Regions from separate parts of the Homo sapiens genome. Here all the other regions are linked to region 1. Evidence: fine-mapped expression QTL. A gene starts in region 1. Each other region holds a variant in brackets. All regions are shown on one strand. Distances are between the middles of the regions.

Evidence for each region. PIP is the estimated chance that this variant, and not a neighbour inherited with it, causes the effect.
Region 2: its variant is the best candidate, but not a certain one, in a credible set for the expression of FBXW2 in whole blood (TOPMed, PIP 0.64).
Region 3: its variant is the best candidate, but not a certain one, in a credible set for the expression of FBXW2 in whole blood (TOPMed, PIP 0.71).

Annotation. Positions count from the first base shown.
Region 1 is chr9:120,789,614-120,797,799 of GRCh38, reverse strand. It overlaps FBXW2 (F-box and WD repeat domain containing 2), which reads left to right and starts at 4,384. Exons shown (of 8, transcript NM_012164.4): 1 at 4,384-4,446; 2 at 4,543-4,651. It overlaps B3GALT9 (beta-1,3-galactosyltransferase 9), which reads right to left and starts at 4,333. Exons shown (of 3, transcript NM_001386823.1): 1 at 3,878-4,333; 2 at 1,191-1,377. The coding sequence starts at 1,196. RefSeq lists enhancers at 3,371-3,460, 3,891-3,990, 4,053-4,683.
Region 2 is chr9:120,625,819-120,634,004 of GRCh38, reverse strand. All of the region lies in intron 2 of MEGF9 (multiple EGF like domains 9), which reads left to right. Among named protein-coding and RNA genes, the nearest start is that of CDK5RAP2, 50 kb to the right of the region's middle. The variant G/A (reference allele first, on the strand shown) is at 3,805.
Region 3 is chr9:120,738,001-120,746,186 of GRCh38, reverse strand. No RefSeq gene overlaps it. Among named protein-coding and RNA genes, the nearest start is that of MEGF9, 28 kb to the right of the region's middle. The variant A/G (reference allele first, on the strand shown) is at 4,578.

The DNA.
Region 1 (8,186 bases):
TAAATCCCTTTTCATTGGATCTTCAATCAATAAAGCCTCCCATAATAACTGTTACCTCCTATTATGCACTTGCTTTTGTGCCAGGCATTGCGATAAGCACTTTTATGTGTCTTAATTCATTTAGCCCTGGTAATATCCCTTTCAGATATGTTATTTTCGTAATTAAGCTGAGCATCTGAGTAGCTTAATGGTTTAGTAATTTGCCCAGGATCACAGTGGGTAAGAGGTTGGGATAGGGCATGATTTGAACTCAAATCTGTCATATTCCAAAGCTCATTCTTTTTTTTTTTTTTTGAGACGGAGTCTCGCTCTGTCACCCAGGCTGGAGTGCAGTGGTGCGATCTTGGCTCACTGCAACCTCTGCCTCCTGGGTTCAAGGGATTCTCATGCCTCAGCCTCCTGAGTAGCTGGGATTTCAGGCGTCTGCCACCACGCCTGGCTAATTTTGGTATTTTTAGTAGAGATGGGGTTTTGCAATGTTGGCCAGGCTGGTTTCAAACTCCTGATCTCAGGTGATCCACCTGCCTCGGCCTTCCAAAGTGCTGGGATTACAGGTGAGAGCCACCGTGCCCAGCCCCAAAGCTCGCTCTTAACCATTGGAGAATCACAATTCCTATCTTTACTTATCTCTTTCTTTCTCTTTCTTTCTTTTCTTTCTTTCTCTTTCTTTCTCTCTTTCCCTCTGTCTCCCCCTCCCTCCCTCCCTCCCTTCTTCCTTGCTCTCTCTCTTTCTCTTTATTTTTGAGACAGAGTCTCACTCTGTGGCGCAGGCTGGACTGCAGTGGCATGATCTTGGCTCACTGCAACCTCCGCCTCCCAGGTTCAAGTGATTTTCCTGCCTCAGCCTCCCAAGTAGCTGGGATTACAGGCATGCACCACCACTCCCAGCTAATTTTTGTATTTGTAGTAGAGACGGAGTTTCACCATATTGGCTAGGCTGGTCTTGAACTCCTGACCTCAGGTGATCCGCTTGCCTCGGCCTCCCAAAGTGCTGAGATGACAGGCGTGAGCCACCGCACCTGGCCCCCATGTCCTTTAAACAGTCAAAAAACACAACAAAACAAAAAAAACCCAGCAATTATAATCTGAACTCCTTTCCATTTTCTCATTTACACATAGAAAAAAATTTCAGCTTCCTCAAAGCCTATTTTACTAGATATCAAATGCTTTAAAGATTGTAAGAAACTTACTTGCATGTTGCCTGTGAGCAACTTCAGGGTCTTAGAAATTATTGAGTCCAGGTGCCAATTATGCCCAAACGCATCTCAGGATCACTCTAGTCTAACAGCAATTGCAGTAAAGTACTTTGTGCCTCAACTTTTGAGGATAAGGTTTCTTGCCAATCAACCTGAGCTTTTATCCTAGAATACCTGCTGACTGCATAGGAGAGTGGGTGCTGATCATGTTACAGCTAGAGTGAATCCAGAACAAAGAACAGACAAAGCAAACCTCTTCAAATGCTTCCAACCCTGTGTACTTCATGAAACTGACCCCATGTCTTTATGCTGAGTTCCTGGTAAAGTGTGTGTGGAAGTTCAAAGAACAGTTACCCAGATCACTTCTCCATAGCATCATTGCACAAGTAGATATATCCTATACTTTTTTTTGGAGTGCATCTCAAGAAACCAAACAGCTGGAGTAATGCCTGCTCCCTGGTACATACACATGCAAAAACTGTACTAGACATAGAGGAAGATTTTTCATCCCTAGTGGGTGCATTATTTTCTCCCAAAGAAACATCATATGGTGAGGTCTGGTGTATGGCTCATTGGGAAGGATTCAGAATCCCTAGTATTGGCTATGCAAGCACTTTACTAAATCAATTTTAAGTCATCTAAACTACCTCCCCAGGCAAGTTTAGCTCAAAATGGAAGACAACATACAGTCCACTTTAGCCGGAATTGAAGAAACTAAACATTTGATGTTTTCTCCTTTCCTGGAGTATGCATGTGTAGGAATTATCCCAAACATCATTTCTACCAGCAAGTTTATTTCGAGAAAAGAAACAACATTCAGCATATTTTCATGTTCCTGTCACACAAGCAATTATACTGAGCATTCTTTTCTCATGCCAGGCTATATTTCGTCCTTTCCTTCAACATCCAACATGTTGATCTTCCTATCTGCCATTTACAACAGCTTTTGTAATTATTTGGCCAGGAATAACTTCTTATATTTAAAGTTGGCTATGTTTTCTCAGCAACCATCATACAATCTTGAAAATCTTTACAAAGTGGGAAAAATCTAACCTAAAAATATCAAATGAAAGGGAATTTTTACATATTCTGAATTTAACAATTCAATAGGTCTTGTATTTAATTAAATATTACGTCCACTTTGCAATTTAAAAATTTTTTTATAGTCATGAATTTTGCTCCTGGATCCCCTCTGGGCTTAAATTTGCACAATTTGGTTTCTTTGTTATGAGAGGTCCAAACAATATTATCTCTGGGGCAGCTCCATCTGGACTTTTCAATTTGATTCATCAAACTGTACTGGGGTTGAGAATGTTTGCTCCAAAGAGATATGGGTGCTTGATTTTCTTGATTACCCTGGTACTGCCTTCCCTTTCATAGAGAGTATCCAATCTGTATATCTGTCTTCCTAAATGTCTTATAATGCTGTGATCAGTCACGTTCTGACTTAGAAGTCTAGAGTGACATCCTGTTGCTTAGCAAATCAAATTTGCTCTCTTGAGACCTTACTTTTAGGACACCGTAGTTGACTTCCACCCCACATAATCAATTTTTATTTCCCATGTTTCAAGTACCCTAAATGAAGTCAGGATGCTTGGAACCTTGGCCATGCTCTACCATCTACTGGATATGTGTCTCTCTTATTGTCTATATTATTGGACTGTGCTATCAAGCATGGTAGCCATTAGCCTCATGTGGCTATTAAATTAAAATTAAATAAAATTAAGAATTTAGTTCATTTACATCAGGTACTTTTCAAATGTTCAGTAGCCACAAGAGACTAGTGACTGCCTTATTGGACAGCACCAACAGAACAACTCCATCACTGGCAAAAAGCTTATTGGACAGTGTTGGTATAAGATGTATGTGAATGTGCGTGTATGCATGTATGGCTTAGGAACCCTTACAGAGAAACAAGGATAACTTGTGCGCTGGGCATTGTGGTTCACCCCTGTAATCCCAGCACTTTTTGGGAGGCCCAGGCAGGTGGATCACTTGAGCCTAGGAGTTCAAGACCAGCCTGGGTAACATAGCGAAACCCTGACTCTACAAAAATACACACACACACACACACACACACACACACACACACACACAACTAGCTGGGCATGGTGACACGCGCCTGTGGTCCCTTCTACTCAGGAGGCTGAGGTGGGAGGATCGCTTGAGCCTGGAGAAGTCGAGGCTGCAGTGAGCCAAGATCGTGTCACTGTACTCCAGCCTGGGCGACAGAGTGATACGTTGCCTCAAAAAAAAAAAAAGGATAACTTGTGCTCTGAAGTCGGTTTGGGTTGAAATCCTATGACAGCCATTTACTATGACCTTAGGCAAGATGCCTAAACCTCTTTTGATTTCAGTTTCCCCATCTCTAAAAAGGGGCCTAATAATAGTTACTAGCTTGTGGGGTTGTTGTGGGAACTGAGTGAGATGGTACACAAAAAATGTTGAGAAAGAGTGCGTGGGATTTTTTAGCTCAGTTTTAGTTCTTGACGCCAAAAGGTTTGCATGCTTCATTTCCTTCAATCCTCAGAGCCTTCGGATGGGGACCTCACTATAATTGCTATGCAGATGAAGCAAAGTCTGAGAGGTTAAGTAACCGGGCCACAGCCAGAGTGTAAACGTTGTGATTCATTCAAATCTACATCACTTGACTGTCTCTTTTCATTCAACAACCTCCTTACCTTGCTTTATTTTTCTCCTTTGCACGAGCCTTAGTTTATCTGTCTTCCTCCTCCTAATAGATGTAAGGCCCAGGCGGTCAGGGGCTTTTGCGTTTTTTGTTCACTAACCCTATCCCCTAGAACAGCGTTCGGGATAAAGAGGTGCCCAACAGGTTGTATGAATTTGGACACGTCTCTTAACTTCTCTAAGCCACAGCTCCCTCTCCTCCGTAAAATGAGGATAATAAGAAAAACTACTGCAGAGCTGGTGCAAGATCAGATTGGAGGAGGGACATAAGCGCGCTGTGCAAACCTGGATGTACGGTACGAAAGGAACCTCCGTTCTAGGTTGCACCCAGCCTAAGCACCGTGAGGGCCGCGCGGCACGCGTTCAGCTTCCCGGGACGCTCTTCTCCCCACCCCTACTCCCGGCCTCCAGCCTCCCACCACCCACCTCCGGGCGGGGACCGGAAGTGCAGCCGCTTCCGCCGGGAGCCGCGGAGCTGAGGGACGCGCGGAGATGACGCAGGCAGCACCGGAAGCCGCTCCCCTGTGAGGCTGCGGACCGGGAGCAGCGGCCGCAGGTCCGGGTCTGTATGCGAGGCGGGGCCGGTCGGGGAGGGGACTCTTAGGCGCCCGCGGCTCTGCTGACCCGCCGCGCCTTGGCTGTTTTTCTTTCCCTGCAGGCGCCATGGCTGCGGAGCGGACCCGGCCGCTGCAAGGCTCTGGCGGTCCGAGCGTGCCTAGTAGCTGTGAACCCGGCGCGAGGTCCCGGGCCCCGGGGCGCTCGCTCAGGTCAGTGCCGCGCGGAACACGATTCCGAGAGCAAGGGACCTGGGAGCAACGAATGGGTTGATGGGATCTGGATTTTAGAGACGGGAAAACAGGGTTTTGGAGTTACTGCCTCCTACTGCCTCCATTTCCTTAGCTGCGAAATGAGTTAACAGTGATGTCCCAGGGCTACCAAACGTTTGAAAGACGATGAAGTGTGATGAGGTGGTTTATGAAGTACAAAGCGCTATACTGCGCCATAATTGTGGGTATGCCATGAAAACAGGTGTGTATGTGGGGTGCTGCTTGAAGTAAAGCAAAGATAACAATATTAATGCTAAGTAATAATGGTAACTGACATTTACTGTAGGCTTACAGCGTGCCGAGTACTGTGCTAAACGCTTTACTTGCACTGTCTTGTTTAACCCTCATAAAAACCCTTGTAGGTAATGCTCTTGGCTGTATTTTACAAGTGAGGAAACAGGGCATGAGACAGGTGAAGTGATTTGCCCAAGGTCACCCAGCAACAAGTGGAGTTGCAGAACACATATTTTATAAACATTATTTGTATTCTTTCAAAGCTTTAAAAAAATTCACCTTAAAACTAAAGGCTATTTTTTGATAGTATATTATACTTAACATGGTTTTCAGTTTTAAAAGGTATACAATAAAAAGGGACCCCTCATTCCTATTCTGCAGCTCTCCAGTTCTCTCTGGAGGCAACCAGGGTTATCAGTTTCTTGAATATTCAGAATACATTTTATGCATATGTAAGTTTATAGGTGTGTATACATTTTCAGCGCCTCTGTGCTCTTTGTTTGATAAGAAAAGGGGGAAATGAAGCCTCCTTCCCTCTACCACTAACAATTATGTTGCTTTCACTCTTGACTAGGCCAGGTTCTGATAGAGGAGGAGGGGAAAACACATTTACACTGTTTTCCAGAAGGTCCTGTCTCTAATACCTCTGAGTATAGGTTTTGGGAGAATGGGTACTGGGCAAAATATTGAGCCTGCTACTTCCTGTGCCATTCTGGGAAGGCCACTCCACTTCTTGAGCCGTAAATTTCCTCATTAATGTTAGTTAAGGGCGGCATTACTGATACCTTCCATGAGGTTATGAAGATGAAATGAGATAATGTTTACCAGTGGTACTTTTTCTTTAAAACCAATATAAATATGTGAGTTGCCTAGGTAACATAGGGAGTTAATGGCAGAACCTGAGACCAAACCCAGGCTCTCATTTTCCAATTTAGGAGTCTTTTTGTTGCATGACCCACTTTGTGATTATTGATACTGAAGGCAAGAGGGCAAGTTGAATGTTAACTCTGGGGTAGGGACGTAGGGTAAGGGGGCCAAACAGCAGGGAATGTGGGTAGAATAAGGCACCTACTGGGAAACTAGAGCCTCCAATAAACAGGTGCTCTTCTTTATAAAATTAAACCCCTAGTAAGTTTGAGCCCTTGAGTTTTTCTTCCAGGTATTTTGAAGAGAAACTTAGTGATAAGATGATAGGGTCAAAAGAGATGTTAGTGGTCATGTCCATTCCACCCTTAGTGTCACAGAAATCTTTACTGCCAGGTGTTCATAGTAGTAAAACTAACAAAAAGTACCATTTGAGTTTTTACCCGCTAGACTGTACACTGTGCTAAGCATGTCCCTGCTATATTTCTGAGTTTCACCCTTCAAGTTGGATGATGGCTTCCATTTTACAGATGATAAAACTGAAGCTTAAAAGTTAGTTGGACATGCCCATAATCACATAGGAAGTGGCTGAATCAGTAAAACATCTGGCCAACCTCCAAAGTATTTTCATTTATCACATTCTGCCTCTGTGTCCAACTGTCCTTGACTGTTCGTGGTAATGGGAAACTCACTACTCTGGAGGTAGCTATTCCATTGTTGGAAAGCGCTGAGATTTAAAAGCTCCTCATGTTGAATTGAAATCCCATTTCCTGAGGTTTGTGCAACCAGTGTATGATATTTCTAGAGGCTGCCTAAAAGAGTCCAGTTTAGACCTGTTACCTTAGAAGGCCCCCTCCAAAGTTAGTTGATCTGTTCAGAAAAGTAAAAATTGGTGTTTTTTAAATAGTGCATTCTGCAGTTAGTGAGACTTGCTTTTTTAGGGAAAAAAATGCCTTTTTCAGAATAATCAGAGGTGAACTGCTCAATCTTACAAGGGATTGAGTGGTTTAAAAGGCAATCTAAGAGTTGGGAAAATTTTTTTTATTAAGAGTTAGGAGAATATATAAATCTGAGACATGGCTGAATTTTTTTAGATGTGCTCTCTGAAAAAGCTTCTTCCGTAATCTTTAGCGGTGTCATGGGCACATTAATTTGGCATTTTTTTTTTAAATTTAAGTTCTAGGGTACATGTGCACAACGTGCAGGTTTGTTACATAGGTATACATGTGAATTTGGCATATTATAGTATGTCTCTTAGATATTTGTGAATGATGGGAACCTGATAATATTTTAATGAGTATTCTAAATTTGCCTTGTAGCCGTTTGAATAACAGTTCAGCTCACTTAAATACAAGCATTTCTACAATAGATGTGTGTCAGCATGTGTATGTATGTGTGTATATATGTATGTGTAGATGTGATGGAGGAAGCTTGCCACACCACACTTTTCACTGTTAAAAATGTTTCAGGAGCAGGTGTGTGGTTTTTTTTCTTTTTTTTCTTTTTTGAGATGGAGTCTTGCTCTCTCGCCCCGGCTGGAGTGCAGTGGCGTGATCTCGGCTCACTGCAAGCTCCGCCTCCTGGGTTCACGCCATTCTCCTGCCTCAGCCTCCCGACTAGCTGGGACTACAGGCACCCACCACCATGCCAGGGGAATTTTTTGTATTTTTAGTAGAGATGGGGTTTCACTGTGTTAGCCAGGATGATCTCGATCTCCTGACCTCGTGATCCGGCCGAGCCCACCTCAGTCTCACAAAGTGCTGTGATTACAGGCGTGAGCCACTGTGCCCAGCCTGGTGTGTGTTTTTAATTGACCAGTATTAATTAACTAGCTATTGTGACAATATGCAGATGCCCACAGAAGATAATTGCTTTGTCTTGTTGCAAATTATTATTTTTTAGAAGTAGAGATTTTGAAGAAATGTTGTATAGATAAGAGGGTTGTTAGGATTTAGAGGAAGGAGGGGGCTTGTTATTGCGTGATAAGTCGATAAAACTTTTAGCCATCTGATTATTTTTTGTCAGCTAGGTAAATTTTTAATACAGATTAATAAATCTTCTCTAGCCCAAACTTTGGCTTGAAACGTATTATCTTGAAGTCTAGTCACAGTTCCAGAAATCAAAACTGTTAGCAGATGATGTGATTGCAAGGTTTGGTTGCTTCTACTAATAAATCAGATTGCTTATTTGTCTAAGAATGTTATTGCCAAATTTGATATTGGACACTTACAATTTTACTCACCTTACATTATCAAAGTTGAAAGATGAGATCTTGCTTTTTGTGTAGACCTGATCTAGGTGATATGTCTGGAAAGAAATTAACTTTCCTTTTTCACATTAATTTGGACATATGTTTTTAAAATTAATATGACAGTCT
Region 2 (8,186 bases), 160 kb after region 1:
CATGTTAGACTACAACACAAGTCTTAACAAATTTAAAAGAATTAATATTATATCAGGTATCTTTTCTGACTGTAATGGAATCAAACTAGAAATCAACAATTAGAGGAACTTTGGAAAGCTATACAAATACACAAAAATTAATATACTCCTGAATGACCACTGGATCAATGAGGAAATTTTAAAATTTCTTGGAGCAAATGAAAATAGAAACGCAACATCCCATACCATGCTATGGGATAGAGCAAACACAGTATCAAAAGGAAACTTTATAGCAATAAACACTTGTATTAAAAAACTAGCAAAATTTCAAATAAACAACCTAATGATCCAGCTTAAGGAACTAGAAAAGCCAGAAAAAACAAAACTCAAAATTAGCAGAAGGAAAGACATAATAAAGATTAGGGCAAAAATTTTAAAATTGAGACTAAAAAGCAATACAAGAAATCAGCTAAATAAAAAGTTGGCTTTGAAAAGATAAACAAAATTGAGAAACCATCAGCTAGACTAACCAAGAAAAAAAGAGAAAAAACCTAAAGAAATAAAATCAGAAATGAAAAAGAGGACATTACAACTGATGCCACAGAAATACAAAGGATCATTAGAGGCTATTACAAACAACTGTATGCCAAGAAATCTGAAAACCTAGTGAAAATGGATAAATTCTGCTTGTATGGAAACATGCAAGCTACCAAGACTGAATCAGGAAGAAATGGAAAACCTGGACAGCCCAGTAACAGGTAATGAGATTGAATCAGCAATAAAAAGCCTCCCAATAAAGAAAAGCCCACTGGTTGCATTCATAGCCAAATTCTACCAAACATATGAAGAAGAACTAATACTAATCCTCCTGAAACTATTCCAAAAAATCAAAGAGAAGGGAATTCTCCCTAACTCATTCTGTAAGGCTAGCATCACCCTGATACCAAAACCAGACAAGGACACAACACAAAAAAGAAAACTACAGGCCCATATCCCTGAATAACATAGGCTCATAAATCCCCAACAGAATACTTGCAAACCAAATCCAACAACACATTAAAAAGAAAATACACCATGATCAAGTGGGATTTATACTAGGGATGCAAGGGTGGTTCAACACATGCAAATCAATAAACGTGATACATCAATCAACAGAATGAAGGACAGTAACCACATGATCATCTCAGTGGATGCAGAAAAAGCATTTGATAAAATTCAACATTCCTTCGTGATAAAAACACTCAAAAAATAGACAGAAGAAACGTACCTCAGAATAATAAAGGCCAATATGACAAACCAACAGCCAGCATCATACAGAGTGGGGAAAAGGTGAATGCCTTTCCCCTAAGAACTGGAAAAAGACAAGGATGCCCACTTTCACCACTCCTATTCAACATAATACCAGAAGTGCTAGCCAGAGCAATTAGGCAAGAGAAAGAAATAAAGGGCATCCAAATTGGAAAGGAGGAAATCAAATTGTCTGTTTGCAGATGACATGATCTTTTATATAGAAAACCCTAAAAGCTCCACCAAAAAGCTCTTAGAACTGATAAATGAATTCAGTAAAGTTGGAGGACACAAAATCAACATAAAAAATCAGTGCTGTTTTTACACAGCAACAGTGAAATAGTGGAAAAAGAAATTTAAAAAACCAATCCTATTTAAAATAGCTCCAAAAAAAAAAAAAAACACTTAGGAATAAATTTATCCAAGAATATGAAAGATTTCTACAAGGAAAACTATAAAACACTGATGAAAGGAAATTGATTAGGACATTTAAAAAATTAAAAGATATTCTATGTTTATGGGTTGAAAGAATTCATATTGTGGTCTGGGTTCTTGGGAGGCCGAGGTGGGTGGATCACCAGGTAAAGAGATCAAGACCATCTTGGCCAATATGGTGAAACCTGTCTCTACTAAAAATACAAAAATTAGCTGGGCGTGGTAGCATGCACCTATAGTCCCAGCTATTCAGGAGGCTGAGGCAGGCAAATCACTTGAACCTGGGAGGTGGAGGTTGCAGTGAGCTGAGATCGCATCACTGCACTCCAGCCTGGCGACAGAGTGAGACTCCATCTCAAAAAAAGAGGAGGAGGAGAAGGAGAAGGAGAAGGTGAGGAAGGAGAAGGAGAAGAAGAATTAATATTGTGAAAATAACCATACTACCAAAAGTGATCTACAGATTTAATGCTATCCCTATCAAAATATCTATGGCATTCTTCACAGAAATAGAAAATACAGGGCCGGGCACAGTGGCTTATACCTGTAATGCCAGCACTTTGGGAGGCTGAGACTGGCAGATCACTTAAGGTCAGGAGTTCAAGACCAGCCTGGCCAACATGGCAAAACCCCATTTCTACTAAAATTACAAAAATTACCCAGGCATGGTGGTGCACACCTGTAATCCCAGCTACTCAGGAGGCTGAGGCAGGAGAATTGCTTGAACCTGGGAGGTGGAGGTTGCAGTGAGTTGAGATTGCACCACTGCACTCCAGCCCGGGTGACAGGGCAAGACTCCATCTCAGAAAAAAAAAAAAATGCAATCAAATTCATATGGAACCACAGGGGACCTCAAATACTCAAATTCTGAGCAAAAAGAACAAAGCTGGAGGCAACACACTGCTGGACTTCAAAATATACTACAAAACTTTAGTAACCAAAACAACATGGTACTGGCATAAAAACAGACACATAGACTAATGGAATGGAATAAAGAATTTAGAAATGAATCCACATACTTACAGCCACTTGATTCTCAGAGGTGCCAAAAACATTCATTGAGAATGGGACAGTCTCTTCAATAAGTGGTGCTGGGGAAACTGGATATCCATATGCAGAAAAATGAAACTAGACCTTTATCTCTCACCATATACAAAAATCGTTTCCAAATTGACTAAAGAACTAAATGCAAGACTGAAAACTATGAAACTACTGGCAGAAAACATAGAAGAAATGTTTCAGGGCAGTGCTCTGGGCAGAGATTTTGTGAAGACCTCATCAGCACAGACAATAAAAGCAAAAATAGACAAATGGGATCGGATCCAGTTAAAAAACGTTTGCACAGCAAAGGCAGCAATCAACAGAGTGAAAAGACAATATGCAGAATGGGAGAAGATATTTGCAAACTATTCATCTGAAAGAGACTAATATCCAGATATCTTCAAACACCTCAACAACCAGTAAACAAATAATTTTAAAAATGGGCAAAGGAGCTGAATTAACATTTCTCAAACAAAAACATACAAATGAAAAGTACTCAACATCACTAATCATCAGAGAAGTACAAATCAAAACTACAATGAGATGTCATCTCACCCCCATTAGAATGTCTGTTATCAAAAAGGCAAAGAATACATGCTGGCAAAGATGCAGAGAAAAGGGGACTCTTATACACTGTTCTAGTGGAAATGTAAATTAGCACAGCCATTATGAAAAACAGTATGGAAGTTCCTCAGAAAACTAAAAATAGAACTATCATATGATCCAACAATCCCTCTACTGGGTGTATATCTATAGGAAAGGAAGTTAGTATGCCAAAGAGATATTTGCATGCCCATGTTTATTGCAGCACTTCACAATAGCCAAGATACAGAATCAACCTCTGTGTCCATCACCAGAAGAGTGGCTAAAGAAAATGTGTGCAATGGAACACTAGTTAGCCATAAAAAAGAATGAAATTCTATCATTCATGGCACAATGGATGAACTTGAAGAACATTATCTTAAGTGAAGTCAGACAGATGCAGAAATACTGCATGTTCCTACTTATGTGGGAACTAAAAATGTTGATCTCATAGAAGTAGAAAGTAGAATAGTGGTTATTAAA[G/A]GTAGAAAAGGTGGGAGGGGAAGATAGCCAAAGGTTGGTTAACAGATATGAAAGTATACATATAGGCTTTGTATTGACATACCACACTGTACCCCATAAATATGTACAATTGTTATTTGTCAGTTAAAAATAATAGCAAAAAAGGCTACTCAGCAATGGGCGGATGGTCAAGGTATACTGAACTGTACCATTAAAGAGTGAAAATAGCCATAGACAATACGTAAATTAATGACTGTGTTCCAATAAAACTTTTCTTTTTTTTTTTTTTGAGACGGAGTCTCACTCTGTTGCCCAGGCTGGAGTGCAGTGATGCGATCTCAGCTCACTGCAACCTCCACCTGCCAGGTTCAAGCAATTCGCCTGCCTCAGCCTCCCGAGTAGCTGGGACTACAGGTGCGTGCCACCACGCCTAGCTAATTTTTGTATTTTTAGTAGAGACGGGTTTCACCATATTGTCCAGGATGGTCTTGAACTCCTGACCTCAGGTGGTCCATCCTCCTTGGCCTCCCAAAGTGCTGGGATTACAGATGTGAGCCACTGCACCCAGCCAAAAATTTTTTTGGGGACTGTCTCACTCTGTCACCCAGGCTGGAGTGCAGTGGCACAATCTTGCCTCACTGCAACAACCTCCGCCTCCCAGATTCAAGCAAGTCTCATGCCTCAGCCTCCCGAGTAGCTGGAATTACAGCCGTGTGCCACCATGCCATTAATTTTTGTATTTTTAGTAGAGACGATGTTTTGCCATGTTAGCCAGGCTGGTCTCGAACTCCTGGCTTCAAGTGATCTGCCTTCCTTGGCCTGTCAAAGTGCTGGGATTACAGGCATGAGCCACTGCACCTAGCCTGTGTTCCAATAAAAGTTTATTTAAAATGTGTCTCAGGCAGGATTTGGCTCTGTTGTTCAGATTAATCATCATGACTGGGCCAGGCACAGTGACTCACACCTGTAATCCCAGCACTTTGGGAGAACAAGGCTGAAGGATTGCTTGAGCCCAGGAGTTTGAGACCAGCCTGGACAATATAATGTGAACCTGTCTCTACAAAAAATAAATTTCAAAAAGTTATCCAGGCATGGTGGCACATGCCTGTAGTTCCACACTCAAGAGATTGAGGTGGGAGGATATCTTGAGCCAGGGAGGTTGAGGCTGCAGTGAGCTGTGATCGCACCACTGCACTCCAGCCTGGGCAACACAGTGAGACCCTGTATCAAAAAACAAAAAACAAAACAAAGTCATCATGACTGGAGTGTTGTACTCATGAGAAAAGTTTTCAGAGGCTATGAGATTGTATCATTGAGAGGTGGTTATTGTTTCAAGACAATTCTCTAAAGATCTCTTGTGCTTTTGCAAGCAGAGGCACTGCCTTGTTCTGGACTATTTATTCAAGGATATTTGCATAGCAAACTGCCTTGGAAAATAGAGCTAATATCTTCCTCTGGAGTAAAGAACAGATTTGCCACTGTCCAATATAATAAAAATAAAGTCTCCCTCCTGGGCAAAGATCAGGTAAGCTCACTGTCCATTATAAAAGATTTGGATTCTCTGAGTTTGGGGTTCTTCTTCTGTAACAACCCACCTCATATGCAGGCATCACTGGCCCTCGTTGCATGACCGTTGGGAATTGAGGTTTGGGGACATGGTGTAAATGCTGATACTCTACTCTAGCTACTGCTTTTGTTTGGAGGAATAAACTGTCCTCTGTCTCTGAAAAAAAAAAAAAAAAAAAAAAAAAAACAACGACAAGAATTTCTGTCTGAATATGGATTTCCTCTAAACATATTTTAGACTATTTGCCCTCAAAAATACAAGGAATGTTTAGCATAATAGCCCAATGTTTTCAACAATAAAGCTATCCTTTTTTTCCTCCAGAAGCCTCGCTTATTGCATAATGATCTTTTCCATAACTGTGGAAAGACAGAGGAACACTAAATTCAGATAATCTTTTGCCAGAAAGTCCAATTATTAAGTTTCTTTTAACAAGAGGAGAAACTATTATTTTCTTACCTCTACAAAATCATGACCCAGACATGAAATTAAGAATTTTTAATAACGTTTTATTTTATTTTTCCATATAAAACCTTTTTGTAGTTGGAAAAACTTTTTCTAGCTACCTTTTAAAGTTCGATTTTAATATATTGAGCGAGTTTATAATCAGCAGTTTGGTATTACTGATTTCAGACTTTTAATTACTAGTTTCAGTCTCTTCCCAAAGTAAATTGTTTTTTAGTTATTTAAAAATAGCTTAAAATGTTATTTTTAAGTTCATTTTTAAAAGTGGAGGAAGAAGAAAATTGATACATTTCATTATCTCTTAATTGTGTTTCTTATTGTCTTCATGTCAGAGTGTCAACATGTGTAATGTCTGAGGAAGAAGGAAAGGGGAAAAGCAAAAGTTCCCAAATGACCACAAATGAATTAATTTTCTCTAATTAGAACTATGGGCTGGGCGCAGTGGCTCACACCTGTAATCCCAGCACTTGGGGAAGCCCAGGCGGGTGGATCACTTGAGGTCAGGAGTTCGAGACCAGCCTGGCCAACATGACGAAACTCTGTTTCTGCTAAAAATACAAAAATTAGCCGGGCGTGATAGTGCATGCCTGTAGTCCCAGCTACTTGGGAGGCTGAGGCAGGAGAATCGCTTGAACCCAGGAGGCGGAGGTTGCAGTAAGCCGAGATTGTGCCACTGCACCACTCCAACCTGGGTGACAGAGCAAGACTCCATCTCAAAAAAAAGAAAAAGGAAAGAACTATGTATAATTTTTAATTATTCTGTAACTGCTTGAGTTAAAATTGATAATGTGATACCTAAAAATATACATACACACGTACTTTATATCTTGTAAATCTTAGGAAGAAAATAGACTTTCTTGATAACAAAAAACATGCCAAGACATTTAACAATTTAGAAATAAATCATTAACTAGTTGGTAGAAAAGCAAGTCAGGTCCAGCTGGCTTTGATCCCACCTAATGTAGGATTTTGCAGATCCTTTCTCTTCTCGATTAAAATTTTTTCCCCCAAAACTGTTTCTACCATGTGTTTATAATGTGCTCTCTTTTTCTAGCCATATTTTTGCTACAAACTAGTAATTATCCTTTAATGTTTTGCTTTTTTTTAGTTTTATTAACAGAATTCTAAAATTTTAAATTACTTACAAATTTTAAATTTTAAAAGTAAGTAACTTAGTCTTCCCTGTCTTTGCCAACTGGGAATTCTAACCTACTTTCCTTAGAATTCTCAGAAAATATTTAAGATCTAGGATCACTGTCATCATGTCCATAGTTGCTTTCATTTTTGAGTACTGAGTATGTGCCAGACACTGTGCTAAATGCATTGTGTATGCAATTTTTAATATACTACAAAGGTTGGTATAATTGTCTTCACTTAACAAATGAGAATACAGAGGCCAAGATAGAATGAATACTTTGTGCCAGCTAGTCACTAGTAGAGCTGGAATATGAACCAAACTCTGTTTCCTCGGGCTGGTTTTTTCCATAAACTCTGATACTCCTTTCCTGTATTATACCCATCCCACCTAATCAATGTGACTGTAAAATAATGGAAATTCTGAAGCTTCTCCACCCACTCATCTTAAACAGAGTCTTTAAAAAGGTAATTTGGCTTGTATTCATGTGACATAGATATGTACCATATCTTGAGATGATACACCAGTGAATTTTCTTTTGAAAAAGTAATGACTATTAGTGTTGTAAAATATGTTTTTATTTATATACACTTAAAAAATGCTTTTTTCTAAAGTGTTAAAACCTTGCAGGAGTTGTTCACACCCATGAGTATGTAAGTTCTATAACTGAGCATTACTACCACAAGAAAATCTGAGAATCCCTTTTGGGATAATTTAAGAAATGTGTAGTATATGCATAGTTACACTTAATGCAGCGTAGCTCCACAATGCTTATGCTTCGTTTATGAATAATTCTATATTCTTTTTTTTCTGATATAATTTTTGTGCTATCTTGGTACTTTACTAGCAACATGTCATTAAGACCAGATAAGCAAATTTTATCTTAAATTGTTAGCTGATCTCATAGTACAGATGTCTGATTTCTATTTAAAATCCAGTTCTACACATTTATTCTCCAGTTATGAAGCTGTGGGTTTTGGTTCTTTCATTTCAAATCTATGGATAAGCATAAGTGGTCTGTTCACAGCCTTTTTTTTTTCTTTTTTGGTTTCATTGCATTTATATCATTGACCTTTGCTTCAGAAAGCATTCAAGTCTTTAACAGAGAGAGACCATGAAAGGGAGTGTTGTAAAGTCTTTATTCTACGAAGGAAGTCACACAGGCAAAGCTTTATATTTGCTGAGTGATTTCTTTTCTTTCTTTTTTTTTTTTTTTTTTTTTTTGTGAGACAGAGTCTT
Region 3 (8,186 bases), 52 kb after region 1:
CATTGATGGGTATTTAGGTTGGTTCCATGTATTTGCTATTATGAATAGTGATGTAATGAACATACATATGCATTTATCTTTATGGTAGAACAATTTATATTCCTTTAGATATCTATCCAGCTGTGGGATTGCCAGGTGAAATGGTAGCTGTGGTTTTAGTTCTTTGAGGAATTGCCACACTGCTTTCCACAATGGTTGAACTAATTTGCACTCCCACCAGCAGCGTATAAGTGCTTTCTTTTCTCTGCAACCTGGCCAGCATCTGTTATTTTTTGACTTTTTTTTTTTTAAGACAGAGTTTGGCTCTTGTCGCCCAGGCTCGAGTGCAATTGTGCAATGTCAGCCCACTGCAACCTCTGCCTCCCAGGTTCAAGCAATCCTCCTGCCTCAGCCTCCCGAGTAGCTGGGATTACAGGCGGCCGCCACCCTGCCCAGCTAATTTTTGTATTTTTAGTAGAGACAGGGTTTCACCACTTTGGCCAGGCTGGTCTGGAACTCCTGACCTCAGGTAATCCACCCGCCTCGGACTCCCAAAGTGCTGGGATCACAAGTGTGAGCCACTGCGCCTGGTCTTGACTTTTTAATAATAGCCATTCTGACCTGTGTGACATGGTATCTTGCTGTGGTTTTGATTTGCATTTCTCTAACAATCAGTGATACTGAGCATTTTTTCATATGCCTGTTGGCCGCATGTGTGTCTTCTTTTGAAAGTGTCTGTTCATACTCTTTGCCCACTTTTTAATGGGGTTGTTTGTTTTTTGCATGCACAGTTGTTTAAGTTTTTTGTACATTCTGGATATTAGACCTTTGTCAGATGTATAGTTTGCAAATATTTTCTCCCGTAGTGTTCTTTGATGAGGTAGTCTAGATCTGAAGATTAGATTCTGAGCATCGTAACACTAAAGGCAATAAGAGCTACAGAAAAGTGTAAAATAGTTTACTGATTCAAAAGCCAGAAAAATAAAGAACTTTTAAACATATTTTGACAAATAGTTTAGAATGATATTCATTTGAGTTAGCATTCAGTGAATGTGAGTGACTGACATGACCCTGTTCTTAGTGTTAAGAAAATTGAAGTATAGGGAATCCTAAATAAGTTAAAATGGTATCTTACACCAGTTTAACAAGTTAAACTTTTTTTTTTTTTTTTTTTTTTTTTTGTGACGAAGTCTCACTCTGTCACCCAGCCTGGAGTACAGTGGCACTACCTTGGCTCACTGCAACCTCCACCTCCCAGGTTCAGGCGATTCTCCTGCCTCAGCCTGCTGAGTAGCTGGGACTATGGGTGCGCACCACCACGCTCAGCTAATTTTTGTATTTTTAGTAGAGACAGGGTTTTACCATGTTGGTCAGGCTGGTCTCCAACTCCTAACCTCATGATCTGCCCCCCTCAGTCTCCCAAAGTGCTGGGATTAGAGGCATGACCCATCATGCCCGGCCTAACAAGTTAAACCATTAATTCACATTTGACAGTTGCATTTAACAAATTTGTATTAATTTGCATTTAACATTGCATTTAACAAATCCCACTGGCCTTCAGGCTGTACTCTGCGTATACTAAGATGTTTCCCGCTTTGGAGTTTTTTAGATATTGTTCCATTTGCCTGAAATGGAAGTGTTTCTCCTGGATCTTCACAGGTTTTGCTCCTTCTCAGTACTCACAGCTATCCTCAAATTTCACCTTTCTAGAGAAGATTTCCATGACCACTCTGTCTATAAGAACCTGATCTCGACCCTCAATCATTCTTGAACTCCATACTTTGTTTTTCTTCACAGCCCTTATTCCATATGGTATTATACTGCCCCGTATATCTATCCATTTACTAATTTATTGTGCGTCTTCGCCCATATGAGGCTGGGGGCTTTTTCTATCTTGTTCCACAAGGCACAGATCCCTAACACGTGAGATAATACAATACTTGGTACAAAGCAGGCACTCAGTTAAAGAATTGCTAAATTAATTTAAAAAATCCCCTGTGCATGGCCGCGTCTATCAGTTATCTATTACTGTGTAATAATCTACTCTGAAACTTAGTGGCTTAAAATAATGATTTGTTATTTTTCACAATTTGGCGGGTTGACTGGGTCTGCTGGGCTCACCAGGCAGCTTACAATCACTGGTGGCTGGTCCGGGAATATGTGGGCTAAGACAGCTTTATCCACGAGGCTGGGGCCTCAGCTGGGACAGCTGGGCTTCTCTGCATGGCCTTTCAACCTAGGCTTCTGAACTCAATGCCAGAAGCCTCCCAAGAAAGCAAAGGGAGAAGCAGTGAGACCTTGAGGTCTAGGCTCTGGAACTCTGCAAGTCACTTCTACCATGTTCTCTTGGTCAAAGCAAGTCCAGAATCAAGGCGTGAGGAAATAGATCTACCTTTTGATGGGAGAAACCACAAAACACCGTGGTCCTGCTTTTCAACATACCACATTACTCCACAGCAGCCTTCTTTCTTTTTTTTTTTTTTTGAAATGGAGTCTCACTCTGTTGCCCAGGCTGGAGTGCAGTGGCACGATCTCGGCTCACTGGAAAACAAACATTCACATTGATAGAAACAAGATATGAGTACTTCATTGATTCATTCATTCAAAAAATATTTGTTGCGTATCTACTACATGCTGTTTTCAACACACTAGATCCTGGTAATTCATGGTAAACAGACATGATTCTCACTCTTCTGGTGTTTACAGTATTTAAATTCTGCTGATGTTTGTTGGATATCTACTATACATTATACATTTTTAAAAAGTTTTTTCAATATAGAGATGGGGGTCTCACTATGTTGGCCAGGCTAATCTCAAACTCCTGACTTCAGGTGATCCACCCACCTCGGCCTCCCAAAGTGCTGGGATTACAGACCTGAGCCACCGCATCTGGCCCCAAAGCAGCTTTCTAAGTTTGTAAATAGCATTACAGAAATCATCCACCTTTGCTCAGCCCAGTGCCTGGCAGCCGACAAGCCCTCGCTGTTGGTCCAGGGATGAATGAATGTCATCAGTGATTGATTCCACAGTCTTCCACAGTGTGCCACTTGTCTAGACATATTGGCCTATACTGTCCCCTAGTGGAATTTGAGAATTGGTACATTCCACCTGAGACCTAAGGATACATTCTCTAATGGGAGATTGAATTGTAGGATTCCAGGTTACAGATAAGGGCGGTGGCCCCTGAACTTTAGCACAGATACAAGTTATAGAGTGATCTTATCAAGAATGACAGATTTGGCTGGGCGCAGTTGCTCATGCCTGTAATCCCAGCACTCTGGGAAGCTGAAGCGGGCAGATCACGAGGTCAAGAGATCGAGACCATCCTGGCCAACATGGTGAAACCCCATCTCTACTAAAAATACAAAAATTAGCTGGGCATGGTGGCGCATGCCTGTAATCCCAGCTACTCAGGAGGCTGAGGCAGGAGAATCGCTTGAACCTGGGAGGCAGAAGTTGCAGTGAGATCCGCCACTGCATTCCAGCCTGGCGACAGAGCGAGACTCCGTCTCAAATAAATAAATAAATAAATAATAATAATAATAATAAAAGAATAGCAGATTCCTGGGCTCCATCCCAATAAGTTCAATAAGTCTGAAATGGTCTAAATTCATTAAGTCCTAGCCCTTTATTTAACCTCTGTAATGAGTGGGTGCTCGAGGTTGAGGCTACAGTTGTGGGAAGAGGACCCTATGTTTAAGGGCAATGAGATGAGCATTAGAAAACAGATCTGTCACTTAGTCTGTGTAATCTTGGGAAATCCACTTAATATCTATGATTCTAGTTCTCTCATCTGTGAAATAGAGTTAATGATACCTATCTCATAGGGCTGTTGTAAGATTAGAAATAGTGCCTAGTTACAATGCTTAGTAGCTAAATTATAACTCATAAAGTGGGGGTTAATATTATTGGTATAGTACAATGACAAAGGTTTGTAAAAAATGTATAGCGTTGGCCAGGTGTCGTGACTCATGCCTGTAATCCCAGCACTTTGGGAGGCCAAGGCAGGAGGATTACTTGAGCCCAGGAGTTTGAGACCAGCATGGGCAACATAGTGAGACCCCCATCTCTATATTGAAAAAAACTTTAAAAATATGTAAAGTGTATAGTAGATGTTCAACAAACATTAGCAGAATTTAAATACTGTAAGCACCAGAAGAGTGAGAATCATGTCTGTTTACCATTGATTACCAGGATCTAGTGTGTTAAAAACAGCATGTAGTAGGTGCGCAACAAATATTTTTTGAATGAATGAATGAGACACTCATATCCTGTTTCTATCAGTGTGAATGTTTGTTTTCCCAATGTATATTTCCTTATAAGCACTGGATGTACCAGAAATTTGTTGTGTGTGTATGTTTTAAGTTGTTTTGTTTTAAGTTCTCCAAGGACTTACAGACACTTTGTTTTTTTGTGTACCTCAACACTGACTAAGCTGCCAGGAGTCAAGCTGTTTTTAGAAAAGTTCTTTTTATTCAGCAGAACATTGACTACAAAAAGAAAAAGAAAAAAAAAGGTGTTTTTTTTTGTTTTTTTTTTTAGTTATATAGTGATAAGAACACCAGCCTTGAAGACAAACTACTTCAGTTCAAATCTCA[A/G]TTCTAACTAGTTGTGTTACTTTAGCAAGTCACTCACCCTCTCTGGACCTCAGTTTCCCCATTTGAAACATGAAGGAGTTCAAGGATCATTTCTGCTCTAATGTATTAGGATTCTGTATGTCTAATTCAGTGTTTTAAATAACCCCTTTATTGTAAAACTAATACATGTCTATTGCCAAATATTTGAAAAATATCAAAAGGAGTAAATAAGGAAGTAAAAACCGCTGTCAATAGCACTCACCCAGAAGAACCACTGTTGACATTTGGGTGAATATTCTTCTAGTCCTCTTTACAGCTATGGATAATTTTTACCAAAAATTATCAGAACATATATTCCATTTTGTAATGTGCTTTCTCACTTAATATGTTAGCAGACTTTTTACATCATCAGTGTTCTTCAAGAGCATGATTCTAATCTCTGTGGAAGGTTGAATCATAATTCATTTAAACAATCCCCATTGGATATTTAGGTTAGTTCTATTTTTTAGCATAAGTAAGGCTTCGACAACCAGCCTTTATACAAATCTGTACCCACATCTCTACATTTTTCCCCTTAGGTTAAATTGTAAATTTTTTTTTTTTTTTTTTGAGACAGTGTCTCCCTCCATTACCCAGGCTGGAGTGCAGTCGTGCGATCGTAGCTCACTGCAGCCTCAAACTCCTGGGCTCAAACCATCCTCCCGCTTTAGCCTCCCCGTGTAGCTGGGGATACAGGTGTACACCACCAAACCTGGCCAAAACTTTTAAATGTATCACCAAATTGCCCTCCAAGTGAAGTTACACATGTGTACACTCTCATGAGTAACGTTTGAGTGGCTATTTCCCCATGATCTCTCCAACACTGGTTATTGTGGTTTTTTAAAAGACCTTGCCAATGTCATAGGTAAAAAAATAGCATATCATTGTTTGAATCTAATGTTATTTTCATTATACTGTTTTATTTCTGGTAGAATGTAAAATTGCATACATACTATTTTTACAACTTTATAAAAATACATGGAACACACATGTTTCAAATGTGGAAAGAACAATAGAAAAATGTCAGTAGTTGTATGATGGGATTGTAATATAATTCTTTTATGTTGTAAATTTTTTAAATTAAAAAGAATCTCTGTAGCAGATGGCTACTTATTCCTCCAAATTCTTCCCCTCTTCCTGGGCACAGTTGCCCAGCTACAGGCTACATTTCCTAGACTCCTGTGCAGCTGGATGTGACCATGTGGTTAAGTGTGGACTAACCAAATATTGAAAGGAAGTGATGTGAACATTTTCTGGGTCATCTCCAGATTTAAGCTCCTTATCTGGAATGTTGGTTCTTCCTCCTTTCCCAGAGTTAGCAACCCAGCCTTGATTAAGCAAATAATGACACCTTAGGGGATGGAGACCAACAGGGAAACTACCTGTTTTTTGTTTTTTGTTTTTTTGACAGAGTCTTGCTCTGTAGCCCAGTGGCATCATCTTGACTCACTGCAACCTCCGCCTCCTGGGTTCAAGCAATTCTCCCTGCCTCAGCCTCCCGAGTAGCTGGGATTACAGGTGTCCGCCACCACGCCCTGCTAATTTTTGTATTTTTAGTAGAGACGGGGTTTCGCCATATTGGCCAGGCTGGCCTTGAACTCCTGACCTCAGGTGATCCACCTGCCTCGGCCTCCCAAAGTGCTGGGATTACAGGCATGTGCCACCGCTCCTGGCTGAAACTGTATCTGTTTATGGCGGCATCACTTGACCAATCCAGCCTGGTTGTTTTGTTTTGTAAGAGAAAAATTAATTTTGATGTTTTTGCACCCACGATATTTTGGGGCCTCTTTGTTACAGCAGTGTAGCTGTGACCCTAATAATCTCAAACTTCTCCCTAAGACTGGGGACATTTTAGGGACAGTTTCACAGTTTGTGGAGCTGATTGGAAGCTGGTAGCAGAGGACTGGGAAGCTACTATATACTTTCCTGAATACTAGAAAATGTTTTTTTTTTATATTCCTTCATATAAACTTTAACAAAATTCTGTGTTAGTATATTTTTTGTTTACAAGGTTTAGAAATAAAAAAATATAATTTATGGTCGATACAAAATACAAAATCACAACGTAAACATCACAACTATAAGTATCCAAAAAAATAAGCTGCCAACCAACATGCTCCATTGAGGATAAATTTCTCTTATTAATAATACTTTGAAGGCTACAGGTTATCACTGGTTTTGCTACATTGTGTACTTTTAATGGCAATGATTGTGGTTTACATGATCATGACAATAAGAAGCATACTTTTATTTTTTTATTTTTATTCTTTTTTTTTTTGAGACGGAGTCTCACTCTGTCGCCCAGGCTGGAGTGCAGTGGTGCGATCTCAGCTCACTGCAACCTCCGCCTCCTGTGTTCACGCCGTTCTCCTGCCTCAGCCTGCCGAGCAGCTGGGACAACAGGCGCCCGCCACCACGGCCGGCTAATTTTTTTTTTCTTTTTTCGTATTTTGAGTAGAGATGGGGTTTCACCATGTTAGCCAGGATGGTCTCGATCTCCTGACCTCGTGATCCGCCCGCCTCGGCCTCCCAAAGTGCTGGGATTACAGGCATGAGCCACCGCGCCTGGCCATTTTTATTCTATTTTTTAAGACAGGGTCTCACTCTGTTGCCTAGGCTGGAGTGCAGTAGCGTGATCATGGCTCACTGCAACCTCCGCCTCCCAGGTCCAAGTGATTCTCCTGCCTCAGCCTCCTGAGTAGCTGGGACTACAGGTGCACGCCACTACGCCCAGCTAATTTTGTATTAGTGGAGACAGGGTTTCACCATGTTGGCCAAGCTGGTCTCGAACTCCTGGCCTCATGTGATCCACCCCCTTGGCCTCTCAAAGTACTGGGATTACAGGCAGGAAGGATACTTTTAAAAAACAGTTTCAGGCTGGGCGTGGTGGGTTTCATCTTTATCCTAGCACTTTGGGAGGCCGAGGCAGGTGGATCACTTGAGGTCAGGAGTTGGAGACCAGCCTGGCCAACATGTGAAACCCCGTCTCTACTAAAGATACAAAAATTAGTTGAGCGTTGTGGCAGACACCTGTAATCCCAATTACTTGGGAGGCTGAGGCAGGAGAATTGCTCAAAACCCGGGTTTCGATGAGCCAATATGGCACCGCTGCACTGCAGCCTGGGCAATAGAGTGAGACTCCATCTTATAAATAAATAAATAAATAACAGTTTCACATTATTGGTTCAATTGAATGGATTCACAGTTACTGCTGTTGAATGTAGTTGCAATGACTACTCTGGAAAGTACAGTGCCAGGTGGCACTCTGAGAAGTCAGCATTTGTCCTAGGTATTGGACGTTGGCAAGAGACCCCAGCACCACACACAGGAAGTTTGGAAGGTACTCATCACAACAGTTCACCCACTATCTTCATGAACAACTGGTTCCACAGCCACCAGGATGACTTGGGTCCACAATTCTCGTCACCATTATACAGCCTAGCTATGACCCACTCCCTGGGGACCTAGGGAGTCAGGACCTTCAAAATCTAGGGAAGGCAACAGTGACTTCAGCTTCCCCTCGTCACGTGGGAGGGGAGCCTTCCTTTCTCCTGAGCGGGCCCTCTCCTAGAACCCACAGTAGTTGTAGGG